2 separate regions of the Homo sapiens genome follow, and region 2 is reported to be linked to region 1. The links are microRNA targets in miRTarBase. Many come from high-throughput screens and were not tested one by one. Region 1 holds a microRNA gene; the other region holds the end of a gene's coding sequence.

Region 1 (4,394 bases):
CATGCCCGGCTAATTTTTGTATTTTTAGTAGAGACGGGGTTTCACTGTGTTGGCCAGGATGGTCTTGATCTCTTGAACTCGTGATCCGCCTGCCTCAGCTTCCCAAAGTTCTGGGATTACAGGCGTGAGCCACCGTGCCCAGCCTTCATATACATTTTCTTTACACAAATAGAATAATTATATTCTGTTCTATAAATAGCTTTTTTTCCCCTTCATGGCATTCTTAAACTTTCCATATCAATTCGTTTGTAACTGTGTCTTTATTTTTAATTATATAATTTTCCATTGTAGAGATGTATAATAGAAGTCTATGAAGGAAATCCACTCCCCTCCTTTTTTTTTTTTTTTTTTTTTTTTTAACTATAATAGTAGTGTTTCTGCATGTATTTTTGCTTGCTTCTGTGAGAATATCTACAGGTTATTTCCTGGAAGTGATATTGCTGGGCTAAAGGATATTTGCACATAAACTTTCAGTAGATATTGGGAAATTCGCCCTTAAAAATATTCAACAAATTTGTACTCTTACTAAAGATATGAAGTGTTATTTTTCTGATAACTGTACACACTTTAATTTTGTGGATTAGAAGGATTAAACTTCTGAAAATGAATCCTTGTCATAGTAGCTTGAGATGTTCAGAAGATGATACATTAGGTAATATATATGTTCCTTGGCTTATGGTGGTTTTACCTCCTGATAAACTCATTGTAAATAGAAAATATCACAAGTTGAAAATGCATTTAATATACCTAACTTACTGAACATCATAGCCTACCTTACACATGCTCAGAACACTTAAATTAGCCTACAGTTGGGCAAAACCATCTAATAGAATGCCTATTTTATAATGTGTTGAATGTCTCACATAATTTATTGAAAACTGAAAGTGAAAAAGCAGAATAGTTGTATGGGTGCTTGGAGTACTGTTTCTACTGAATGTGTATCGCCTTCTCACCATCATAAAGTTGAAACTCGTAACCCAAACCATAAGTTGGGGACTGTCCATAGTTCCATTGCCTGATGTGATCTGTTGAAGTTAGGTGGAAGATAGTGTACTATGACCTCTACAGACCCATAGTGTGTATTGTACAGATTTAGATGAAGAAGATCAGAATGTTGGGTTTCTAGGTTTTTATCTTTTTAGAATGTTTAAGATAAACATTTATGGCCAGGCACGGTGGCTCATGCCTATAATCCCAGCACTTTGGGAGGCCGAGGCGGGCGGATCATGAAGTCAAGAGATTGAGACCATTCTGGCAAACATAGTGAAACCCTATCTCTACTAAAAATACAAAAAAAATTAGCTGGGTGTGGTGGCACGCGCCTGTAGTCCCAGCTACTCGGGAGGCTGAGGCAGGAGAATTGCTTGAACCTGGGAGGCGGAGGTTGCAGTGAGCCGAGATCGCGCCACTGCACTCCAGCTTGGTGACAGAGTGAGACTCCTCTAAAAAAAAAAAAAAAGAGGAGCATTTACTAGTGACATTCTAAAGGAGCAGAAGACCCTGAGTGCTGGTTTGAGAAGTTTAGATTTGTTGTGTTGGAACACTATTTAAGGTCCATGAATTAGAGAGTAATGTGGTGGGTGTGCTGTGTCAGAAAGGCTTCACTAGCAGTGTATACAGAATGAGTGGGAGTGAGTGAGCCGTCTGGAGGTAGGCAGGTCCTCTGGAGAACTGTAGTAATTCACAAAGGAGAGGAAGAAAACTCAAAATATGATGATAGCTATGGAGTCGAAAGTAAGATAAGAAACACAATGAATAGTTGGCGGTCCTATTGATTAAGTGGAGAAAAATTATATTGAAGTTGCAAACCTAGGAGAATGGCCAGATAATACAGATTATGAAATAAATGGAGAAGGGACCAATTTTGAAAAAGTTAATTTTCCTTAAAAACATAAGGAAATAAAAGGGTCCTGAAGTGAGAGAAATCAAAGATTGGAGAAGGAAAGAGGGAGAAATTATGCCACTTTTAATTTCAGCTACTACCTCTATTAGGATTTGGGAGTTATACTAATAGAGGTAATAGTTGAAATTAAGAGTGGATGAGTTCTGGTATGAAGTGGTTGATGGGGACAACTGTTGATTGACAACTGCATTTTAAGGAGAGGATACTGATAGTAATGGGAGATGGGATGAAAGAATGCCCAGGCAGAGAGGAAATTTAATAATTTCAGGAGTGGGGAAAGAATAAAGACAAATGTTACTGCAGCCTACCTTTCATTCTTTTACTGTGCATGAGATACTGTATTTGCTGGATGTTTTCCTGTAGATACCACATTGTTCTTCCTCCGGGAGTGGCATGTCAGAAAATTTGATGATTATTTTAAAGATGTTGAGTTTTATTCCTGAAATTGAATATGGTAACGGAAAAAGGGTCTTGGGTAGTTTTTGGTGTCATATGCTGTGTTCCTTTTAGTTCATAAAATCTTTCATCTTGTTTGAATATCTGTGGGTCTAAAAAAAAAACAGCTAATTTTTGGATAGGTAAAAGTCCAGATACTTTGTACATTTTAATTGATTATTTAAAAAATATTCCCTGGCTTTTAAAACTTGGCTAATACAAATTGTAAGAATCACCATCTTTTTAGAAGAACATACTGTGAATTCAGAATTTTTGCTGGCTTAGTGCTTGTCAGCATGGAGCCTGTTCACAGGAAATGCTTTAGAATCAGAGTCAGAGACCTGTGACACTTCTGGGGAGTCAGTATGTAAAATAGTTAGAGTGCAGGCTCCAGAGTCAGTCTCCCTGGTTCCACTGTTCACTAGAAGTATATCCTTGGATAGATTACTTAGCTCGTCCATTAGATTTGCTGTCTGGACGTGTCAGTAGTAACAATCTCAATGTCACACGGTTATTGAAGAGATCCATCATAGAGCTTACATTCTAGTAAGGAGAGACAGGCAGTATACAAATACTATAAATACACTGGAGGAAAACATAGTGGGGCTGATTATAGTCGATTTTTGCTCTTTTATTTCCGGTAACAGTAAAACAACTCTGATAAGAAAAGGTTTGAACATGAAGGCAGACCTGAAGCGAGTGAGGGAGTGAGCTATGCAGCTAACCAGGGAAGAGTTCCAGGTAGTGGGGATAGCAAGTGCAAAGGCACTGAGGAAAGGGCACATGGGAGGGGGCAGCAAGAAGGCCACTGTAGCCAGAGCAGTGAGTGAGGGAAAAGGAGAAATAATTTCAGAGATAGCGAGTGATCAGCATGTATAGGGTATTAAGCATAAGAAGGACTTTGGATTTTATCCTGTGTGAGATGGGAAACCATTGGAGTGCCAGAGTAATTTTTTCTTAAAGCTAGTCTGCTTGTCATTTCTTTTCTTAAAAATGCCTCAGTTCCCTGTTGCCTTTGGAATAATGTTCACGTACTTTACTTTGGCACACAAGGTCCTTCACAGTCAGGCCTCTGCCTGTTTATTTAGCATCATCTGCTTCTTTCCCACATGTACCCTTCACTTTAGCCAAGTGGGATCACATGCAGCTCCCTGGATGGGTCATGATGCTTTGTGTCTTCGCGTCTTTCTGTACCGTTTGCCCTGTGAGAAGCCCTCCCCCTCAGCTCACATGGTCACTGGCTCTGTTTTAGAGGGTCCTCTTTGTGCTCTTGCTCTCTCATCATTTCCACCCGGAGCCACTTTGCACTTAAGCTGCTTAGGCTTGAAACGTGCTGTGTTCTTTTACCAGCCTTGATTTTACTCTTGCCACACCCTTGCCGGTTGAAAGTATGCCTATCCAGCTCAGACACTGCCATCTTCTGCCTCCTTGGGACCCTCAGAAACACTTTGTAGCTCTCTTCTACCTAATAATAATTATTTGGAATTAAAATGTTTCTTTGCCTTCACAAAAAATCCTTGGGCTAACTTATTTCAGTTTTCTTTGTAGCTCCTAGAACAGGGTCTTACAGACATTTCATATTCAGTAGGTATTCATGGTGTGTAGGATTCATAGTATAATTAGAAAACTATTGGCTTTCAAACAACTAAGGGCCAAAAGCAGCAAAAATGAATGCACAATTAAAATGAGTTCCTATTAACAAAACAAATTTACTGTAATTATGATAGCTAGGTAATCCTTGTTCTCTTATATATTTATATATACTTACTAGTGGCACCAAATATTAGTATACCCAGTTTGAGATGCAGTTTGTTGAAATATATTTGGACACAGCCAGGCGTGATGGCTCACATCTGTAATCCCAGCACTTTGGGAGGCTGAGGTGGCAGGATCGCTTGAGCCCAGGAGTTCAAGAACAGCCTGGGCAACATAGTGCGACCTTGTCTCTACAAAAAAAAAAAAAAATTAAAAAATTAGCTGGGTGTGGTTGTGCATGTCTCTAATCCCAGCTACTCAGAAGGCTGAGGTGGGAGGACTATTTGAGCCTGGCAGGTTG
Region 2 (4,394 bases), not on the chromosome of region 1:
ACAAAAATTGCCCAGGCATGGTGATGCGCACCCATAATCCAGCTACTTGGGAGGCTGAAGCAGGAGAATTGCCTGAACCTAGGAGGCAGAGGTTGCAGTAAGCCAAGATTGCGCCACTGCACTCCAGCCTGGGCAACAGAGTGAGACTCTGCTTCAAAAAAAAAAAAAAAAAACATAAAAATACTTTAAGGGTCTTCCTCTGAAAGACTTTTTCCTTCTGTTTCCTTTTTTTTTCCTCTTTCACATTTTCTGTATTGAGCCAATATGACTACTGTAATGGAGGGGAACCCTTTATTTGTAGTTAGCTGGTGATAGGCTTTATTTTACAAGTTGGCCCCATTACCAGATGGCACATCTGACTATCATCTCATAGAGGCCTCAGCTGAAGGGCACAGAGAAGGTAGGGTGGGGTTCCCAGTGGAGCAGGTCCTGGGGTGGCTGCTCCTCTTTCATTCTTCTCTGTCTCTGTAGCTGAGGATCCTGTGGAGGAGACCATCGCAGCCCGCAGTCCACCGGGATCAGAGCTTCACTTACCAGTATAAGATACAGGACAAAAGCGTGTCCTTTTTTGCCAAAGGAATGTCTCCTGCTGTTCTGTGACCTGATTTCGGAGCAGCTGAAGCTACATAGGACTGTTTTTGGACGTGGAAGATAGAGCAACATAGCAAGAATGGGTCTTTCTCCTCTGTAGTAATATTTCAGGCTGGACCGGCGACTCCACTGTGACCAGAGGGTTGAGTGCTGCAGTGATGGCATGCCTTGGCTGCCCTGGGCCCTGTTCAGAAAACACAAGGGACCACAATCCTGCCTTTGCTGAGAGAGAGGCTGGATGCTAGACCCAAGTGAAAGGGGTCCTTTGGAGCCTTTGTTTAAATATGCCTTAGCCCCAGCTGCCCATTTTTGGTTGACAAGCCTTTCAGAGCCAGAGTGGGTATAGATGTGCCAGCCAGGAGATGGCACCGGATGGCAGGTGTGCAAGGTGACAACTAGGATAATCATGGCTGGAATAAAGTAAGTTTCCACACTGGAGCTTCCTGTGGGTTGTCTTGTTCAATTTCCATCCTGGAAAGGTACTTTCCCTTTCCCTATGAGTTCAGCGAGGAAACAGACCTAGAGAGGTTTGGAAGCACACAGGCTGCACAGCAGGCTGTAAGTAACTGTGCCTCACTCCACAGTCCACACTTGCTGACTGACAGTCATGGAACCCAGAGGCCAGCTCCCCACCCAAAGGTGGGGACCTTTGGCTTCTCCAGTTTCTGTGGTGCCTTGCCTTTATGCCAACAAATCCTAGCCATCAAGGGCCTGGCACCAGGGCCTTGGCCACATGAGGCCCTGTGTAGGCGCAGGTGTGTATGGTCTTGGTGAGAGGGGTAAGGGATGTTCTTGCTGCCAGGCGGATCAGGCCTTGGCGAGTTGCTGGTGCCTCCCTCACCTGTGAAGACTGCAGGAGGTGGGCTCTTGCCCCGCATCCTGTAGATGACAACTAGTCCCACTCAGCCCCTCAGTTGAGGTCACCTCAGAGTAGACACCAGGTGTATTCTCTTAAAATGGCTGCTTTTTTGGTATATAAATTATATTACAATGAATTTTATCTTAAAGAAAATGAAAAAATAATACTATTTTGCTGTATACTAAGGAACTTACATAGCTGTTATTTTCTTTTCTTTTCTTTTCTTTTTTTGAGACAGTCTTGCTCTGTCACCCAGGCTGGAGTGCAGTGGCCCGATCTCGGCTCACTGCAAGCTCCGCCTCCCGGGTTCATGCCATTCTCCTGCCTCAGCCTCCTAAGTAGCTGGGACTACAGGCACCTGCCACCATGCCCGGCTAATTTTTTGTATTTTTAGTAGAGACGGGGTTTCACCGTGCTAGCCAGGATGGTCTTGATCTCCTGACCTCATGATCCGCCTGCCTTGGCCTCCCAAAGTGCTAGGATTACAGGCATGTGAGCCACCATGCCTGGCCTTTTTTTTTTTTTTTTTTTTTTTTTTTTTGAGATGGAGTCTTGCTTTGTCACCCAGGCTGGAGTGCAGTGGTGGCATGATCTTGGCTCACCACAACCTCCGCCTCCCGGGTTCAAGCTATTCTCCTGCCTCACCCTCCCAAGTAGCTGGGATTACAGGCACGTGCCACTGTGCCCAGCTAATTTTTGTATTTTTAGTAGAGATGGGGTTTTGCCATATTGGCTAGGCTCGTCTTGAACTCCTGACCTCAGGTGATCTGCCTGCCTTGGCCTCCCAAAGTGCTGGGATTACAGGCATGAGTCACCATGCCCAGCCTCTTTTCTTTGTTTTGAGACATGGTCTCTCTCTGTTGCTCAGGCTGGACTGCAGTGGTGTGGTTATAGCTCACTGCAGCCTCGACTCTCTGGGCTCAAGGGCTCTTCCCACTTCAGTCTCCCAAGTAGCTGGGATTACAGGTGCGTGTCACCACGCCCAGCTCATATCTGTTGTTTAATTTTAACTTTTTGGATTTTTAGTCTTTAGGAAAAATTTATCACACTTCTCTTCAAATCATACCATTGTGTATGTTATCCGTCTGAAACAGTAAGCTGCTTTTATTCTCAAAATACTGTAGACCTGATAGAATATTTGAAAGTTATGAGTGCAATTAAGAGAAAGTAGTTATTAAAGAATCTAATGATTCTTTGACTAAGACTTCATTATTTATGCAAACTTCGTTTGAGCTACGATTTTGAATGGGCAAGGCACCATTTTTTACATGACATAAATGTTGCTATCATGTTTCTTCACTTAGTTTATAGATGTTTTCACTATTTTTTTTGAGACAGGTTCTCTCTGTTGCCTAGGCTGGAGTGCAGTGTGGCACTTCTTAGTTCACGTGAATTCCAAGTGATCCTCCCCTACCTCAGCATTCTGAGTAGCTGGTACTACAGGTGCCCACCACCATGCCTGGCTGTTTTTAATTTTTTTGTAGAAACGGGGTGTCACTTTGCTGCCCAGGGTAGTCTTGAACTCCTGGGCTCAAGAGATCCTCCCGTCTCAGCCTCCCCTTAAATATTTTATGTTTAATAGCTATTGAGGGCGGGGCACAGTGGCTCACGCCTGTAATCCCAGTACTTTGGGAAGCCAAGGCGGGTGGATCACCTGAGGTCAGGAGTTCAAGAGCAGCCTGGCCAATATGGTGAAACCCTATCTCTACTAAAAATACAAAAATTAGCTGGGCGTGGTGGTGGGCACCTGTAATCCCAGCTACTTGGGAGGCTGAGGCAGGAGAATCACTTGAACCCAGGAGGCGGAGGTTGCAGTGAGCCGAGAATGCACCATTGTGCTCTAGCCTGGGCAACAAGAGCAAAACTCAGTCTCAAAAAAAAAAGCTATTCAGCATTTTATGCTATCATTATATTCTAGTTTGTTTAGTTATCCTCTGGGCATGTAGATTCTGGTTTTTACAGTTATCAATTATGCTGTTATAAATTTTATATACTCTACCTATTGCGGGTGGGGATAAGTACTTGTTTGTTTAGAACCTGACAAACCAGGTCACTGGCAGAGCTCATAGAACTTACGTTCTGGAAGAGAAGACAGGCAATCAACAGAATCGACAAAGGACATATTTAACTTAGACCACAATAAGTGCTATAAATAAACCAGCACAGGGGCCTGTGAGAAGTGAGGGGTGATGACATTTTAGTCCATACCCTCTAATGGAATTATTGAATTACAGCAGAAACTGGCCCTGGCACATTATCAGGTTGTTCTTCAGAATGATGGAGCCAGTTGACAATGATGCAGAGATTTTGCTCTGTCAACTTTGGGTTTAACTTATTTTTAATTAATTTAATAGTGGTGGTTGTGTGAGAATGGACTAATACAGGGGTAGAAAAACAGGATCATAAGGTGTGATATGGTCCATAAAAATGATTCTAGTGTGAAATGGACATTTCTTTAATCACTAGCATATAATTTTCTCTGTATTTTTCCGTGTGTACAGAATCTGTTCCTTATCCTTGCTTACTTATCAATTAAAACCTGGTGTTGGTCGGGCATGGTGGCTCATGCCTGTAATCCCAGCACTTTGGGAGGCTGAGGCAGGCAGATCACTTGAGTCCAGGATTTTATTTTTATTTATTTATTTATTTTGAGACAGAGTCTTGCCCTGTTGCCCAGGCTGGAGTGCAGTGGCGCAATCTTGGCTCACTGCAACCTCCACCTCCCGGGTTCAAGCGATTCTTCTACTTCAGCCTCCCGAGTAGCTGGGACTACAGGTGCCTGCCACCACGCCCAGCTAAGTTTTTGTATTTTTAGTAGAGACGGGGTTTCACCATGTTAGCCAGGATGGTCTTGATCTGCTGACCTCGTGATTCGCCTGCCTCGGCCTCCCAAAGTGCTGGGATTACAGGTGTGAGCCACCGTGCCCAGCCAGAAGATCTGTTT

The links. Region 1 holds the annotated microRNA hsa-miR-5690 (UCAGCUACUACCUCUAUUAGG, at 1,973-1,993, shown strand). A microRNA usually pairs through its seed, bases 2 to 8, with sites in the 3' UTR of a target mRNA and lowers its output. Matches are read on the target gene's strand: a 7mer-m8 pairs with bases 2 to 8, a 7mer-A1 pairs with bases 2 to 7 and ends in A, and an 8mer does both.
Region 2: miRTarBase lists ELP6 as a target of hsa-miR-5690. The part of its 3' UTR that is shown has no 7-base or 8-base seed match.

Annotation. Positions count from the first base shown.
Region 1 is chr6:35,662,359-35,666,752 of GRCh38, reverse strand. It overlaps MIR5690 (microRNA 5690), which reads left to right and starts at 1,964; the gene lies at 1,964-2,036. The region is part of intron 1 of FKBP5 (FKBP prolyl isomerase 5); the gene reads left to right. RefSeq lists enhancers at 3,056-3,555, 3,556-4,057.
Region 2 is chr3:47,492,275-47,496,668 of GRCh38, reverse strand. ELP6 (elongator acetyltransferase complex subunit 6) reads left to right here. Exons shown (of 7, transcript NM_001031703.3): 7 at 472-1,029. The coding sequence ends at 600. Among named protein-coding and RNA genes, the nearest start is that of SCAP, 19 kb to the right of the region's middle.